3 separate regions of the Homo sapiens genome follow, and regions 1 and 2 are each linked to region 3. Evidence: fine-mapped expression QTL. A gene starts in region 3. Each other region holds a variant in brackets. All regions are shown on one strand. Distances are between the middles of the regions.

Region 1 (5,230 bases), 60 kb after region 3:
AAGGAAAGACATTCATATGTCAGTCACCGTCCCATCAGGATCTAAAACCTGGCAAAATCCCAGAAATTTAAAGAAACAATTTTCCATCTTTGGGGGATGCTTTTTTAATGAGTTTAACTTAGCTGCACAGCTTTCCTCCCTGACCCAAAAAAAAAGGAGTGTTTACTTTTCATCATTTTATATCACCCTTTGGAATAACTAAATTCATTCTGTGCCATCACAAAACCAAATTGGAAACTGTCAAGAAAGAGGCTTTACTTAAAAGAGCTAGTGGGAATGAGAAAACCAAGGAAAAGAAATCTGAGGCATGGTGGCAAAAAGAAATCCCTGACAGAACAATCAGCTCCTATAAGAAGAAAGAGAAGGACATTGACCCTGGGAGCTCAGATGCTGGGTCTGCTGGTGGAGGCACCATTCTTGTGGGTTGGGCTTCATGTCAAGGTAAACTTTGCTTAACCTTGCTGCTTTCCTATGTGTAAATAAAGATGGCGACTGGTTTTCTAGCCTGTTGATCACGTCAAAAAATATTTCTGTTCTTTCCTGAAAAATTATTTTTTCTCTTCATAGTGGTGTGCTTGATAATTCAGGAGGGAAAATACTTGTTCGGAAGGTTGCTGGACAGTCTGGTTACAAAGGGAGTTATTCCAACGGTGTCCAATCGTTATCCCTACCACGATGGAGAGAATCCTTTATCGTCTTAGGTATGACCACACACTGGAGAAACGCTGCTAAACCTACCACAAGATGAAATGTGCTCTTTTCATTGTGCTGTTGGTTTTTGTTTATGGCCCACCTCATTTCATAAAAATCTGAAGCATTCGTTTTTCTGATAATTAGAATCACGACACAATAAATTAGAATTACATGATAAATCACCACAAAGTCATATCTGAAAATACTAAAAGGCTCCACATGCTTGTTTTAATTACACTGCAGTTATCTGTAAGTCCAATCAGATTTTTAATTACATTAATTACATTTAATAGCTTGGGTTTTTAAACCAGTCCTTTAGTTATGCCAAATGTGCCTCATGTCTAGAACCTTATTCCTTGAGATTTCTGTTAAGTGGATAGATAGGTATTGTCACAGCAAATCCATTGTGTCATACACAATGGCCATATCAAGAGGCATATAATGGCAGTCTGTTCCATTGTTGGTGATGCTAAGTTTGATTCACTGGATATTTTACCATATCTGTCCATGGCAAAGATACCCCGTAATTAATAAGCATCTGTAGGGTAATGCTTTAACATGCTCGAGTAGCTTGTTCCCCAACAAATTTCACCCAGTGATTTTAACATCCATTGCCGATCCTCACTGTAACAAGTATTACATTAGTAATTGCAAAATTATAATTTTTTCTAATTCTGTCATTCCTTCCACATTTGTTAGCTAGTGTTCTTATATAAAGAAGAGTTGCTTTCCCCCTCTGCACCTATTATTTTTAAGTGGACTATGGATTCATAGATTGTTTTTAAAAATATAATGTTATCATCTATTATCTTTATTTTTCTTTTTGGTGCTCATATTTTCTGAGATTGCCCAGTGGGAGCCCTTCAAGCTTTTGACATGTTCACGGTAGTGCTTGAGGACAACACAGTATTTTTTTTTTTTTTTTTTTGAGACGGAGTTTCAATCTTGTTGCCCAGGTTGGAGCGTAATGACACGATCTCGGCTCACCGCAACCTCTGCCTCCTGGGTTCAAGCGATTTTCCTGCCTCAGCCTCCCGAGTAGCTGGGATTACAGGCATGTGCCACCATGCCCGGCTAATTTTTGTATTTTTAGTGCAGACGGGGTTTCTCCGTGTTTGTCAGGCTGGTCTCGAGCTCCTGACCTCAGGTGATCCGCCCACCTCGGCCTCCCAAAGTGCTGGGATTACAAGCATGAGCCACCACGCCCAGCCTAACAGTGTTCTATACTCACCTTATACGTACCCTACTCTAAACCTGAATCTCCCATTTTCTCTAAGGCGGTTCCATGGGATTTTAAACTAGATTGTAGCCAACTTCCTGGCCTCCCAACAAAATTAGGTGCCTTGGGACTGTCCTGAGAAGGAGTCACTTATAGAAAACTAGCTGAACAGGGAAGAGAGAAATGTTTCATAAAACAGTAGGTCTTCCAATCTGGGTGGTTTTCTAGCACTGCTAGGCACCCCATGCCTCAAGCCCCTACCGTCCTCCACTGATTAGAGTCGTTAGCAGGACAACAAACAGACCTT[T/C]TACTATTCTTCTCAACTTGAGCAATCCATGTTTCCTTTTGCCTGCCAAATTCTACACGCCCACAGTTCAAATTAGACTGGTTTCTTTGTCAGATAGCGGAAGGGTATCAACCGCAGTACTGTGGGGTTTTTGCCTTGTAACAAAAAATTCACAACGGGAGCCATATAAAAATGCTAATGTCTCGAATACAAATATGTTGAGACAGAGAGAAATATAATCTCCGCATAGGTGTTCACCAAGTAGATCCTGGCTGAATAAGAGCATTTCAGCCTTAAGTGCTCAGTCTGCAATCCAAGAATCTCAACAGAGGTTTAAAAGAAAAATTAATTCTATGGCAGTAGAGATGTTTTGGGCTTTTTAAGTGAAAATCAATCTGCTGATATTATTCCCTATAAATCTCGACTTCCATCTCCCCTCATTCGACCTAGTGACAGTTAACCGAAAATACTTTTTGCCAATGATAATAAACATTTGTGCTTCTGCAATGGCTTGGAAGCCTCTCTCGAATGGATGAGTTAGGAGCTCACTGCAGCATAAGCATTGATAACTGACTGGCAGCCAAGGAATGCTTCCCATTATCCAGAGGTTCATGGCCAGCAAGTTTAACTGCATGATGTCCGAATCCTCTTCTGAAGGCTCAGGTGCCACCATGATCTTTCTCTAGGTTTTTATTTCTAATTTTCATATGCCCCTGAGCTCCTTAACTAATTCACTTTGGTGAGCTAAGAGGGGGAGCAAAAGAGGAGATGTACGTTTACGGCCCGCATGATCTTTACACAGTCCAGGGATATGAAATGTCAGTGAGGGACCCCCTAATACTTCCCTTTTATCCTTTGATCCACATTTCAGGGAACTGAGCTCATGCTCCTTTTCCTTCTGAATAGAAACAGAAAAAAAAATCACGTTTTAGATCAATAAATAGAGAAGATGTCTCTTCCTCGCTTTCTGCAGATAAAGTGTGGCCCACAGCCATGGGGCCCTCTCTGGGCCTAAAATAACCTCAGTCATTGTCATTTGGAGCAGGCCTTGACATTGGTGGAGGACTTGGAAATGCCAGTCCTGTTCCCCAGGTGATTCTAATGAGGTAAAGTAATGCAAGTAAGCCCAAACACGTGGCATTTATAGGTAACACCAGAAGAAATTTTTGCATCTCTATGGAGATACATAGTTCCAAAACATTTTAACATTTTTTCCATTAGATGTCTACAATCTTGTGTAGTAAGCAGGGCCGTGTCATTATTCCTGTTTTGTGAATGAAAACACAAGAGCCTCAAAGGTTGGGGCAGTTAATTAAAGGTAAAACAGAAACAGAAACCTAGATTGTCTTACTCCTAATCCTAGGTTCTTACCTAGACCCTGCTATTCTTTCTGCTTCATGACCCTACGATTCCTGTGCCAGCAGGATGGTTGGCAAGATAGTGCCCTAGATCCTCCTCCACCCACCTAGGTTCTCTGTGCCACACTGCTTACCATCTTCGCATCCTGTAAAAGTATTCCCTCCAGATGGGAGAAGAAATGCTTTCATTACTAGATGTAATATTGGCTAACAGGTAGTACCCCTACCAAGGTATTTTAATTTTAACAGAGATCTAAGCTTTAAGATATTCCCCCACTGAATAAATACTTCTTGAGCAACTGCTTCACGCCAGGAACAAATTGCTTTGAGCTCTGAAAATTCAACCGTTACCAAGTCAGAAAAATGACTTGCCTTCAGGGGGCTTACTGTATTCCAGTGGCATTCTCACTTTACTTGTGGAACAAAGACCATATGGTGGAATTTCAGGCGTCCTTTTATGGTCAGAAGAAGACTTTGGCAATTTTTTTATGCTTATTTTTTTCCCTAATAGACGTTACCATTCCTCTTCCTTGCCTGCTAGCTACCGTGTCTCCCCCTGGGTGAGCAACACATGGTTATTTTCAAGGTTGACCTATATTTACCTACTTTTAGGTTTTACTACTGCTATGAAATTCAAATGAATCCCACACGGTCTGTGAAAGTGAGCCTATGACCGGAGCACTCCATCATCTCAAAGGAGAGCATGTGGAGGGCTTTCCCGTTCACCTACTGATACAATTAAACATTCGAAGCCACACAGATAAAAACCTTCACTTCCATGTCACATCTTCACGGGTGAAAGAAGGATTGCTGATGTTAAGCAACTCTGAATCATGGAGAGTTGGTTGCTTCCATTCTAATAGTAATAAAACACAAGCTATACAGGAAAACAAAATGCCACATGACATTCTCATTGTAATCAACTATTCAGCATGAGGGAGACTGATTTTATTGAACTGAAGAGAGATAAATTGAAAGGACAGAATCAACTTAGTACAGAACCATCTAAAACCTCTAGCTCTAGAAATAAATCTCGTTTTTTTTTTCTCTTTTTTGCAGAAAGTAAACCCAAAAAGGGTGTAACCTACCCATCAGCTCTTACATACTCATCATCGAAAAGTCCAGCTGCCCAAGCAGGCAAGTGCTCACGTGTGATTGAATCTAAACCTTCTGAGTCCATGAACACGCGACGTGTTTTGGGAGATAGCGGAGAAATTAACATCTTAACCGGTCAAGCTCCACTGGCTCTGGCAATATTTTAACAGATGCCAGGAACATGGGCACAGAAATCAATGAGATCAGATGGCTGGGGCTGAAGAATGAAAGCTTTATTTTTTGTTTTTGCAATTCCGAGATTGTGTCTCTATATTTGTGTCATTTTCATTCAGATTGACTGTTGCCTTGAGTTTTAATGTATTGTTGCTTTAGAAAATGACATGACATTCTGTCCGGAAATGTTTCCTGGCAGCTAAAAGGAAAAAGCTGTATCTACTTAGATATGAAATGAAGAGAAGCAAAGAGAACGAGGTGGTTTATGTGATAACAGCAAGCTGCTCATCCAAATAACCCAGGCCAAAAATACACTGTCTACAAGGTTGTGCCAACTCAGCTTTCATGTGAACCACAAAAGGGAGTATCGGTAGACCTCAGGCCAAGAAAATACCTTTTTCCAGG
Region 2 (5,230 bases), 70 kb after region 3:
CCTGGTAGCATTACCAGAGGGTAAGACGGAGAAGTACTTTGGAGAAATTAGAAACTTCCCTAGTACTTGTTATGAAAGCTCAAACTCTTTAAAATAATGGAAATGTCATAAATCAGGCAGATTCACTTTTGCCTGAGGATGGCTTGAAGGAGGCTGCTGTGAGCTCTTTAGTGATTTGTCTGACACAGGCTACAGGCAAATTTAAAGGTGACCAACTTAGCAAGAAACAAGGCAATTGAAAGATCGGTTTCCTACCTTGACCAGCTAATGCCTGCAAGAGCAGACCGAATGGCTGAATTCCAACCCGATTCCAGGAATACTGTTTGCTGACCTGCTGTCTTAAGTCAGTGCTGTGATTCCTGCAAAAGACGGCAGAGTCAGGGTGGGGAAATGAGCAGGTGCTGCTGTTGGCGGTGGGTCTAAACACCCCACCACACATTTGTTTGCATCACTTGTCCAGGACTATGATTCTGGCACTATTTTCCTGGATGTTATACAATGTCAAAGGGGAAGGTGGATGGTTCCCACCAAGACAGAAGCACCTTCTTATTTCAGATGCTATCTTCTTGGTCTGCTGTGCTGTGTAACAAAAATGTATCAACCCCAAGCAGAGTTAAGGCCAGAGCTGGGATGCTGTGGTAGGCTGAAAAACACCCTGGAAAAGATATCCATGTCCTAATCCCTGGAACCATTGAATGTTTCCTTATATGGAAAAAATGTGGGGAGCCTTTGCTAATGTGATTAAATTAAGGATCCTGAGATCGTGACGGGGCGGTTATTCTGGATTCCCCAGGTGGGCTCTAAATGCAATCACTGGCATCTTTGTAAAAGGAAGGCAGAGGGAGATTATTTCACATCCATAGAGGAGGAGGTTGTATTAGTTCGTTCTCACACTGCTATAAAGACACTACCCAAGACTGGGTAATTTACAAACAAAGGAGATTTAGTTGACTCACAGTTCCACATGGCTGGGGAAGCCTCATGAAACATACAATCATGGCAGAAGGGGAAGCAGGCATGTCTTACATGGCAGCAGGCGAGAGAGAGAGAGAGAGAGAAAGAGAGAGAGAGGAAAAACTGCCTTATAAAACCATCAGAGCTTGTGAGAACTCACTCACTATCATGAAAACAGCATGAGGGACACCGCCCCCATGATCCAATCACCTTCCACCTCATCCCTCCCTTGACAGGTGGGGATTATGGGGATTACAATTTGAGATGAGATTTGGGTGGGGACACGGACCCAAACCATATCAGAGGTCATATGACGACGGAGCAGAGAAACAACTGAAGATGCTGGCCTTGAAAACTAAAGTGGCATGGCCACAAGCCAAGGAATGCCAGCAGTCAGCAGAAAGCAGAAGAGGCAAGACACAGAGTCTACCCTATAGCCTCCTGAGAAAGCTCAGTGTTGCTGACACCTTGAGTTTGACCCAGTGATGCTGATGTCTGACTTCTGGCTTCCAGAACTGTGAGAGAATAAATTTCTGTCATTTTAAGCCACCCAGTTTGTGGTAGTTTGTTACAGCAGCCCTAGCAGCTGATACAGGTACACAGGGACAGAAGCTGGCATGCCCCAATGGGGCCCAGCAGGCACAAGCAACAGTGGGTTGTTCCTTCCCAGGACCGAGGAGCTGTTCACTTTGGGGGCCACTGTGTGTCTCCCTGAGAACTCACAGTTCTCAAGACAAACCCCAATGCCCAGTGGGTAGCCACTTGTCCCCTTGCTCTAAACCTTCAGAGATATTCTCAGAGCACTAACAAACTGAGACTTGCTTTATAGGGAGCCAACTACAGCGGTGTTTAAAAGGAGAGAAGTGATCTAAATCATCACACGTGGATGAAGAGCACCATTTAGAAGTCGAATCTAGGCCGAGCACAGTGGCTTGCACCTGTCATCCCAGAGCTTTGGGAGGCTGAGATGGAAGAATTGTTTGAGGCCAGGTGTTCAAGATCAGCCTAGGCAACACAGGAAGATGCTTTCTCTACAAAAAAAAAATTTTAAATTAGGCAGGTATGGTGTCTTGCACCTGTAGTCCCAGCTACTTGGGAGGTTAGGTGGGAGGATCACTGTACCCCAGAAGTTCGAGGCTGCAGTGAGCTATAATTGTGCCACTGCACTGCAGCCTGGGTGACAGAGCAAGATCCTGTCTCAAAAAAGAAAAAAAATGTAGAATCTGGATCATCCTTGCCATCCAGGTAGTTCTATTACCCCATTTTACAGATTAGGAAACTGGGGCCCAGAAGAGTTGACTAGTCATGAACCAACCTAAACCAGCGCATCTAAAACGTATTCTCTAAGACTAGGTCATAATGAAAGCCCCAAATGCACCTTCTGTCTTCTATTCCAAGGCCAATGCTAATCAAATCAGCAAAAAACAAAAACAAAAAAAAATGTACATAAACCATTGCTAGTGGTG[C/A]CAGGCAAATTAATTCAGCAATTAATCATGTTCTGCCTTGTCTATGTTCTATGTTGCTATAGTTTTGACCTGTCATTTATTTTATTGCTATTGAATCTTTGGTTGATTGAGTGATTGCTCTGAGAGCATACATTCTTTCAGGCAAGAATGTGGCTGTTACCTGGGTTTCACCCTTCACCGTGGCTAGCACAGCTCTGTGCTCATAGCTAGTGTTCAATCAACATTTATTTTATTTCTAGTTCTATAAGAGTGTACAGGTTATTTTGTGGGCCTTGGTATAATTCCATTTTCTTACAGGTGAGACCACAAAAGCCTATCAGAGGCCACCTATTCCAGGGACAACTGCACAGCCGGTCACTCTGATGCAGCTTCTGGCTGTCACTGTAGCTGTGGCCACCCCCACCACCTTGCCAAGGCCATCCCCTTCTGCTGCTTCTACCACCAGCATCCCCAGACCACAATCAGTGGGCCACAGGAGCCAGGAGATGGGTCAGTAGGTAGACCATGTGTTGCTTTGTGCTAGGGAAATGGGAAATTGGGCTTTTAGAGTAACAGCTCTGTCTGAGCATCTACTGGGCTGGGTGAATGGGGAGCACTGGAGAACTGGGCCGGGGGTATGTTATTTGTGTCCTCCTCCTAGATTCAAGGGAGGATGTAGATTCAAAAATAAGACTGCTGTCACCGTACTTCTGAAGATAGAATACTTTCCCATTGCAAAATCTTCATTTCTCCAAAAGCTCAGTTGAAGGGATGGTAGATTTCTATGTAAACATTGTTGGGGTTTATTGTTGTTGTTATTGGTTTTTAAGTGACAAATGGTACAGACTTGGAAGTCTTCAAATATTAAAAGCAAACAAAACCAAAAGAATCCCTTTAGGAAAAGTCAGCTAATGTTTTTGTTCCTTTTCTGATGGTTTTTTGTCTTACTACTTTTACCCATTGCTCAAATCATGTTGAAGGTTTTATCAAGGTCCAGTTTATGGACTTCATCTCGTACTACATCAAATAGGGCCTAAGGAGCCCATCTGATCATCTGATCTCATTTCTGCACAGACTTATATCTACACCATCCTAAGTTAATAAGCATCTATCTCACTTCCAGAACTTTTCTAGCAAGGGGGCGAAAACTTCTGCAGCTGGAGTTCCACTATTGTCTTAGCAATGTTTTCTGAATATTTCCCACCTGGTGCCACTTTTTCCTTCCAGGAGGAAGTGCTCTGGACTTGTTCTTTTCAGGCTCGCCTCCAGCTTGCAGTCACTACTGCCACATAGCATGACCCTTCCCCCTCTCCGCTCCCATAGCAGAGGCCAGCTACCTACCTATCCATCTTCTTATTTAAAAAATGCAAATCAGGCTGGGAGCGGTGGCTCACGCCTGTAATCCCAGCACTTTGGGAGGCCGAGGCAAGCAGATCACTTGAGGCCTGGAGTTCAAGACCAGCCTGGCCAGCATGGTGAAACCCCATCTGTACTAAAAATGCAAATATTAGCCAGGTGTGGTGGCACGTGCCTATAGTCCCAGCTACTTGGGAGGCTGAAGCTGGAGAGTCGCTTGAACCTGGGAGGCAGAGGTTCCAGTGAGCCGAGATCGCACCACTGCACTCCACCCTGGGTGACAGAAAGAGACTCCGTTTCAATAAATAAATAAATAAAAATGCAAATCAGCACTTTGAATATGCTAGCCCATCTTCTGAACACCTTACAAATATTAGCCTATTGAATCCTCCGTAACAACCCTATGAAGTAGATTTATGACTTCCAATTTCAATAATCCATTGTATTGATGAGGAAACCAAGGAGTAAGGCAGTGAGGAAACTGGTTCCAGCCTACACAGCTGGGAAGTGGCAGAACTGGAATTCAAACTCCAGCAGCCTGGCTCTCCTCTTCCTTGCAGGGGAGCATCCCTGCCAAAAATGAACACCCCAGGCCCAGGCAGAGCACATTTTGGCATGATTAGTATGGCAAAATTAAAAGGTGCTCAGCACAGCCAACTTCTTCTTGAATTAATAATAACAGAATGCATGTAGTACATATATCTCATTTACCAGGTATACTGCATGTATTATCTTATTTAATCTTCCCAATAACTTTTTGAAATAAGAATTATTATTATGCTATTTTATGGACGACTCTTTGAAGAAGCTATGATATAAAGTCCCAGAATAAGAATACCGCAAAAAGAATTTTTGGTGTTCTGAAATACATCAAACACTCCTCCACCATTCTGTTCCTGTTTAACTCAGGATAATATTAACACAGGTGCACAATACTTGACAGCAAAAGAGAAACAGGAAGGATGCTGGATGGCAAGGGTTAACAGGGGTTCTGTAGCCAGAAGTTCTCCTTTCTAAAATTTCAGGCTCTTGACTTCAGATGCCTTGATTCTTTCAAAGATTTTTGAGTATCTGAGTTAGTTGTTTGCTCCTGTTTTCTCCTTAGAGGACTTTAAATTCTTACATAACACATATAATTAAACATGTGGCATATTTATTTGGCTACGCTGGGAGCTTGGAAATCTGTTGCAAGTTGGGCTCTGCTGGTGGAAAACCTAAGAAACTTGAAGTAGTGGCTCCTAACCTGGCAAAGCTTCTTTATTCCTGGCTTGGGAACAGGAGCTTTGGACAACAGCCTCCTGGCCCATCAGTGTTCCTTCTTCATCCTTGTCCAGAGCCCACTTCTATGGTGATCCACAGACTGCTAGACAAACGCTCGGAGCAAGCAAGCCATGAAGCATGCACCACAATGGCTAGGATAGGAACCAAACTGGGGAAGCGGGGAGAGCTTTTTAAAAGTTGTATTGCCTATTCAA
Region 3 (5,230 bases):
AAGTCTTAATAGAGCACCATTGCTTTGGAGTCAAGAAGCCTTGGATTTGAATCCAATATCTTGCCTTATTGGCTGCATGACCCTGGGAAAGTTGCTTAATCTCTTTAGGCCTCAGTTCTCTTATCTATAGAATGGAGATTATACTACTAATCCTTCTACATTCTTCTAAATATTAAATGTAATGATATATGTACAGGGTTGCTGTCCTTAGTAAAAGTAAGTATTTGATAAACAGCAACTAGCATTATTATTATTATTATTATTATTTTTTGAGACCAAGTCTTGCTCTGTCAACCAGGCTGGAGTGCAGTGGTGCGATCTCGGCTCACTGCAACCTCCACCTCCCAGGTTCAAGTGATTCTCCTGCCTCAGCCTCCCGAGTAGCTGGGATTACAGGCACCCGCCATCACACGCCTGGCTAATTTTTGTATTTTTGGTAGAGATGGGGTTTCACCATGTTGGCCAGGCTGGTCTTGAACTCCTGACCTTAGGTGATCTGCCTGCCTCGGCCTCCCAAAGTGCTGGGATTACAGGCTTGAGCCACCGAGTCCAGCAGCATTAGTAGTAGTAGTATTAGGAATAATGTGATTATGAATTATGCTTAGGCTGCCATTCTGAACCTGCCCTAATTCAAGTGGTAGGACAGGGGATCCTCAGTGTTACAGCATTATCATCCTTACCACCAAAGAACCTGGGCTCAGAATTTAGTGGAGGAATAAAGAGGATTGAGAAATAATTTCATTGCAGAACCAAAAGAAGTAAGGGTAAAAATGATTAAATAACATTCAAATCATTATCTCCCTTTTTTTAGTCTTCATGTTCCTTTAATGGAGGAAGATTCCTGATCAGTGTACAGTGATGTATTTATTTAACAGTGACCTGTGCAGAAATTACATACTATCCATCTAGATAGCTTGCTACACTTCGCCTATTGATGGAATCATTCCATTTATCAAGTTTTATACATCAAAAAGCTTTGAATTTCATCAGGCTCTTCATTAATTCACCTCTGAAAAAGTGGCATTTAATTTCAGCTACCATGTTTTATAGCATTAAAAAGCTTATGCATCTCTGCACAATGGCATTGAGCAGATGAATCCCACCCAGATTCACATAGTCACATTTGAGAGCTTTAGACCAGAGAGCTGGGCCAAAGTTACTCCTAATCAACACAGACTTCTTACCGTGAGAGCCTATCTTCTCGGCCACATTTTATATAGCCAATGAAGACGTGCCAGCAATCATCCCATGTATAACTTGGCATTAGAGCACAAGATCTGTCAAACAATTATCTTAAATAAGGAGCAGTTCCAGGGCCAACAGATGAGGACAGGAGGCTTCTCGAATGGAAGAAGGTTCTCCTCCCTAGCTGCGTGAGTGCACACTCCCCAGCAGGAGGAGGAATGACTCTTTGCTACCTTCTCCTGTGCTTGAAAACAGATGCTCTGCCACACTGATGGACACTGGAATCTCAAGATCTGCCAGATGTACTTTTTTTTGGTCTGATTTTTTTTTAATGATGTGATACGTTAATACACATTTTGAATCTGAATCTCTTAGATTTCATTGATGACACTAATATATAAATAACTAAAACTGGCAGATTTCATGTGAGATTATTCATCAGTATTTTTTTTGAAACATGAGTCAGGTTTTGCTTCCCACTATGATTATCTTGTGTCCTGTAACTACCAGCATATAATTGAGTCATTTCATAAAACTTGCCAAAACGCAGAAAGGACTGAAGCAAAACAAAACAAAAAAATAGCATTAATATGTAGGAAAAAGTACATATTTTCAATTCAAAAGTGGGAGTCCAGTAGAATAAGTTTGAGAGTGTTTGCACAGTTTTCCTTCTTTGTGCAGTTCAGTCCAGCTGTTCACTAGCTTTTGAAAAAGAAAGAAAAAATTGAATTGCCCCTGCTGAAGTAATTTTTAAAACATATCTTTTACTTTCCATTTTTATCTAAGTGGTCCTCCTCTACTTTTTAGAATGTCAAATTGTAGAATTTGCTTACTGAAAGTTTGTGCTTTGGGCTACAAAAGAATATTTAGAAATCCTTACAAAAAAAAAAAAAAAAAAAAGCAGTGGGAGTGGAAATTTGAAAGAGGACCGCCTAATTCAGCACTAAAACCAGTGTGAGAAGCAGTATGTGTGAGCATGTGTGTGTGTGTATGTGTGTGGGGGGGGGTGTAAAATGTGTTTTTCAAAGTACTGAGAGGTTGATGGGACTGTTCGATTAGCTCCTCTGAGAAGAAGAGAAAAGGTTCTTGGACCTCTCCCTGTTTCTTCCTTAGAATAATTTGGATGGGATTTGTGATGCAGGAAAGCCTAAGGGAAAAAGAATATTCATTCTGTGTGGTGAAAATTTTTTGAAAAAAAAATTGCCTTCTTCAAACAAGGTATGTCTGATGAATTTCTAAGCTGTGTATATAGTTACTTTCCATTCATTATCATTGAAACGTATTTGTCTTTAAGAAACTACAATACAAAGCTTGACCGAGTAAGCAAATTTCAGTTTCAAGAGAGTTGAGATGAAAGTGGATGGTACTTGGCATCCTTGTAAACAACTAGTAATATACATATATATTTATCAATTATAAATAAACTGCATTGATATTAATATTATAACAAGATTTTTACTGTTCCTTTAAACCAATTTAATTATGGTTACAAATAAGTTGAAAAGTATGACATTTGTGTAGAATTTTAAAGTAATTTAAGTCTCTATTATCTTGCTTTTTTAAAAACTTTGCTTGGAATATGTGGAATGTAATAGCAATATAGCAAATTGCTTATAAAGATTGTGAATGGCAGTATGAGAAATGGGCACATTGGTGCTAACTTAAAAGAGAAACTATTTCGTGTGGATCTCTACTTCTCTCTATTCAGACAGATTTCAGTGGAATGTGGCTAGATGTGCGATTCTGTGTCTTGTTTACACTTAAAGTGTTTTCTTAGGCTGAATGCTTCTGTTACTGATAAGCCCAACAAGGGGCTGGCATTGTTAAGTCTGCCATCGTAGCTCAGCTTTTCACAGGAAGACAGGATATGAAATCTCTTTTAAGTATGATTTGTGTCCAACTAGTATAAACATGAAATAAACGCCTCAAGCACAGGTTAAAGAGAGAGGATAAGACTGAATAATTAGACATGACAGTTTTCTCCAAACAACCCACAGCATCTTTGCCATTCCTAAATCAAGAGTGGAATTAAAAATTTTCTTTGGACTTATTGTAAAAATAAAAACAAGCATTCTTGGCCGTGGTGGTTGCTCAAAATTGCGTGTGCTAAGAAAATAGTATTTTGCCGTTACGTTGTGTTGCAATAAATTTGGAAGTTTTGGTGGTAAAGTTCTGAGGTTGTTTTTCCCTTGGTCTCTTGAAAGATGAAAACACCCTGCAGCAAAGCAGGATCAAACACTGTTTGTTTGTGTATTTTCTCTCTATGTGTGTTAGCTGCAAGTGGTAGCTAGTGCTGGTAGGAGAGCTGGAAGTGCCCATCTTTTATTTATTGAATTAAAATACCCTCTTTTGTACAAAAAGCTTTAGACAAAGAATTACAAGATTGCAAAGACTTGCATTTTTTTATTGCAATATGCTGGTTTCCCAGACTAAGCTTCATTTAAATATATCTTATGCCTCACCACTAAAAAAAATAAAAATACCTTAGGAAGATTGGAAATGCTTAATATCTATCCTAAAACTGTTTAATTCATGAATATTGTTAAGAAGATCTGTCTTTTCCACCAAGTTACTGATCACATGAAGAATAGTTTCTTTCAGAGAAAATACATGAGGTTTGAGAATGGTTCTCAGCTATGATTCCTATAAGACACATTGAATACAGGAAAGCAGTATGGTTCAATGCATGCGCCAAGCCAGGAGTCCTAAATTATAGTAACAGCTCTGCCACTACCTATTACCTTGGAAAACATATATAACATTTCTTGACTTTTGTTTCTCTCTTTGGAAAACAGAAATAGCAATGCCTGTACACCCTCCCTCCCAGGGCGGCCACAAGGGTCAATAGTGGTTCTCAGCTCCAAAGGAGTTTTGAAATGTCAAAACTTCTATAGCAATGTAATCTTGGCCTGGCGCAGTGGCTCACACCTGTAATCCCAGCACTTTGGGAGGCCGAGGTGGGTGGATCACCTGAGGTCAGGAGTTCGAGACCAGCCTGGCCAACATGGTGAAACCCCATCTCTACCAAAAATACAAAAATTAGCCAGGCATGATGGCGGGTGCCTGTAATCCCAGCTACTCGGGAGGCTGAGGCAGGAGAATCACTTGAACCTGGGAGGCAGAGGTTGCAGTGAGCTGAGATCACGCCACTACACTCCAGCCTGGGCAACAAAGTGAGACCTGGTCTCAAAAAAAAGAAAAGAAAAGAAAAGAAAAGAAATGTAATCTTTTATTCCCCACATATTAAAAAAAAAAAGATTACTTTAGAAAGCATTTATATAATAAAAACTTCATGGCCCCCAACATGTTCCCATGATGCTGTGTCCACATGTGCAACTTCCCCTCTCCTTGCTAACACTTGGAGGTGTGAGCCAAGCATCAGCAGCAGTGGGGACAAGACAGAACACAATGGGCCTGTCTGTCAGTAGAAGGGCATTTAGCCATGGTGCACTGGAGAGGTTACTCAATGTCTCCATCTCTATTTCATCACATACGAAATGAAGAAGTTACACAAGATAGTCTCTAAGCTTCCCTCTCAATCCTATGGTTCTATGCACTGGGACCTCTCCAGTGTCAAAATGTGGCCAGGAAAATTTCACTGTTGAGACTCTCTGTACATTGCTAAATGAAGAAGTATCGAAATAGTGCTATGAAAATTATGGTATATTTTAAATATGCATGTTTACCTAACCAGAGACTTACATGTATACAAAAATGAAATTTGACATAATTATATTCTTCACAAGACAATTAGAGGGGGTTATATATATATATACACACACATATATATAGATGTCTCCATATTCTTCAGAAGATGATTAGAGGAGATTATAGATATAGATATAGATATAGATATAGATAGATATATAGGTAGATAGATAGATAGATAGATAGATAGATAGATAGATAGATATGCACACACATATACATAGTGTACTGGAGACTGTGGGTCCAAGTTGTATGAAAGACTTTTTTCAGCTTTCTGCTGTATTTCTGTGACTGTCAATATAACCCCATTCGGAAAGAATGTCAAATGCCTTAATTT

Direction of the effects. Alleles are on the strand shown, and positions count from the first base shown. SD is a standard deviation of normalised expression in the study named. Not every link is listed here.
With allele C in place of A in region 2, the expression in tibial nerve of the gene that starts at base 2,137 in region 3 is higher (small effect, 0.29 SD a copy in GTEx).

Evidence for each region. PIP is the estimated chance that this variant, and not a neighbour inherited with it, causes the effect. A credible set is the group of variants that fine-mapping cannot tell apart.
Region 1: its variant is the best candidate, but not a certain one, in a credible set for the expression of VIT in tibial nerve (GTEx, PIP 0.74).
Region 2: its variant is the best candidate, but not a certain one, in a credible set for the expression of VIT in tibial nerve (GTEx, PIP 0.86).

Annotation. Positions count from the first base shown.
Region 1 is chr2:36,754,354-36,759,583 of GRCh38, forward strand. It overlaps VIT (vitrin), which reads left to right. Exons shown (of 16, transcript NM_053276.4): 5 at 568-701; 6 at 4,616-4,693. All of the region lies in intron 2 of LOC124905990 (a long non-coding RNA gene), which reads right to left. Among named protein-coding and RNA genes, the nearest start is that of VIT, 60 kb to the left of the region's middle. RefSeq lists an enhancer at 1-173. The variant T/C (reference allele first, on the strand shown) is at 2,220.
Region 2 is chr2:36,764,377-36,769,606 of GRCh38, forward strand. VIT (vitrin) reads left to right here. Exons shown (of 16, transcript NM_053276.4): 7 at 2,718-2,909. LOC124905990 (a long non-coding RNA gene) reads right to left here. Exons shown (of 3, transcript XR_007086283.1): 2 at 256-359. Among named protein-coding and RNA genes, the nearest start is that of VIT, 70 kb to the left of the region's middle. The variant C/A (reference allele first, on the strand shown) is at 2,421.
Region 3 is chr2:36,694,571-36,699,800 of GRCh38, forward strand. It overlaps VIT (vitrin), which reads left to right and starts at 2,137. Exons shown (of 16, transcript NM_053276.4): 1 at 2,137-2,403. All of the region lies in intron 2 of LOC124905990 (a long non-coding RNA gene), which reads right to left.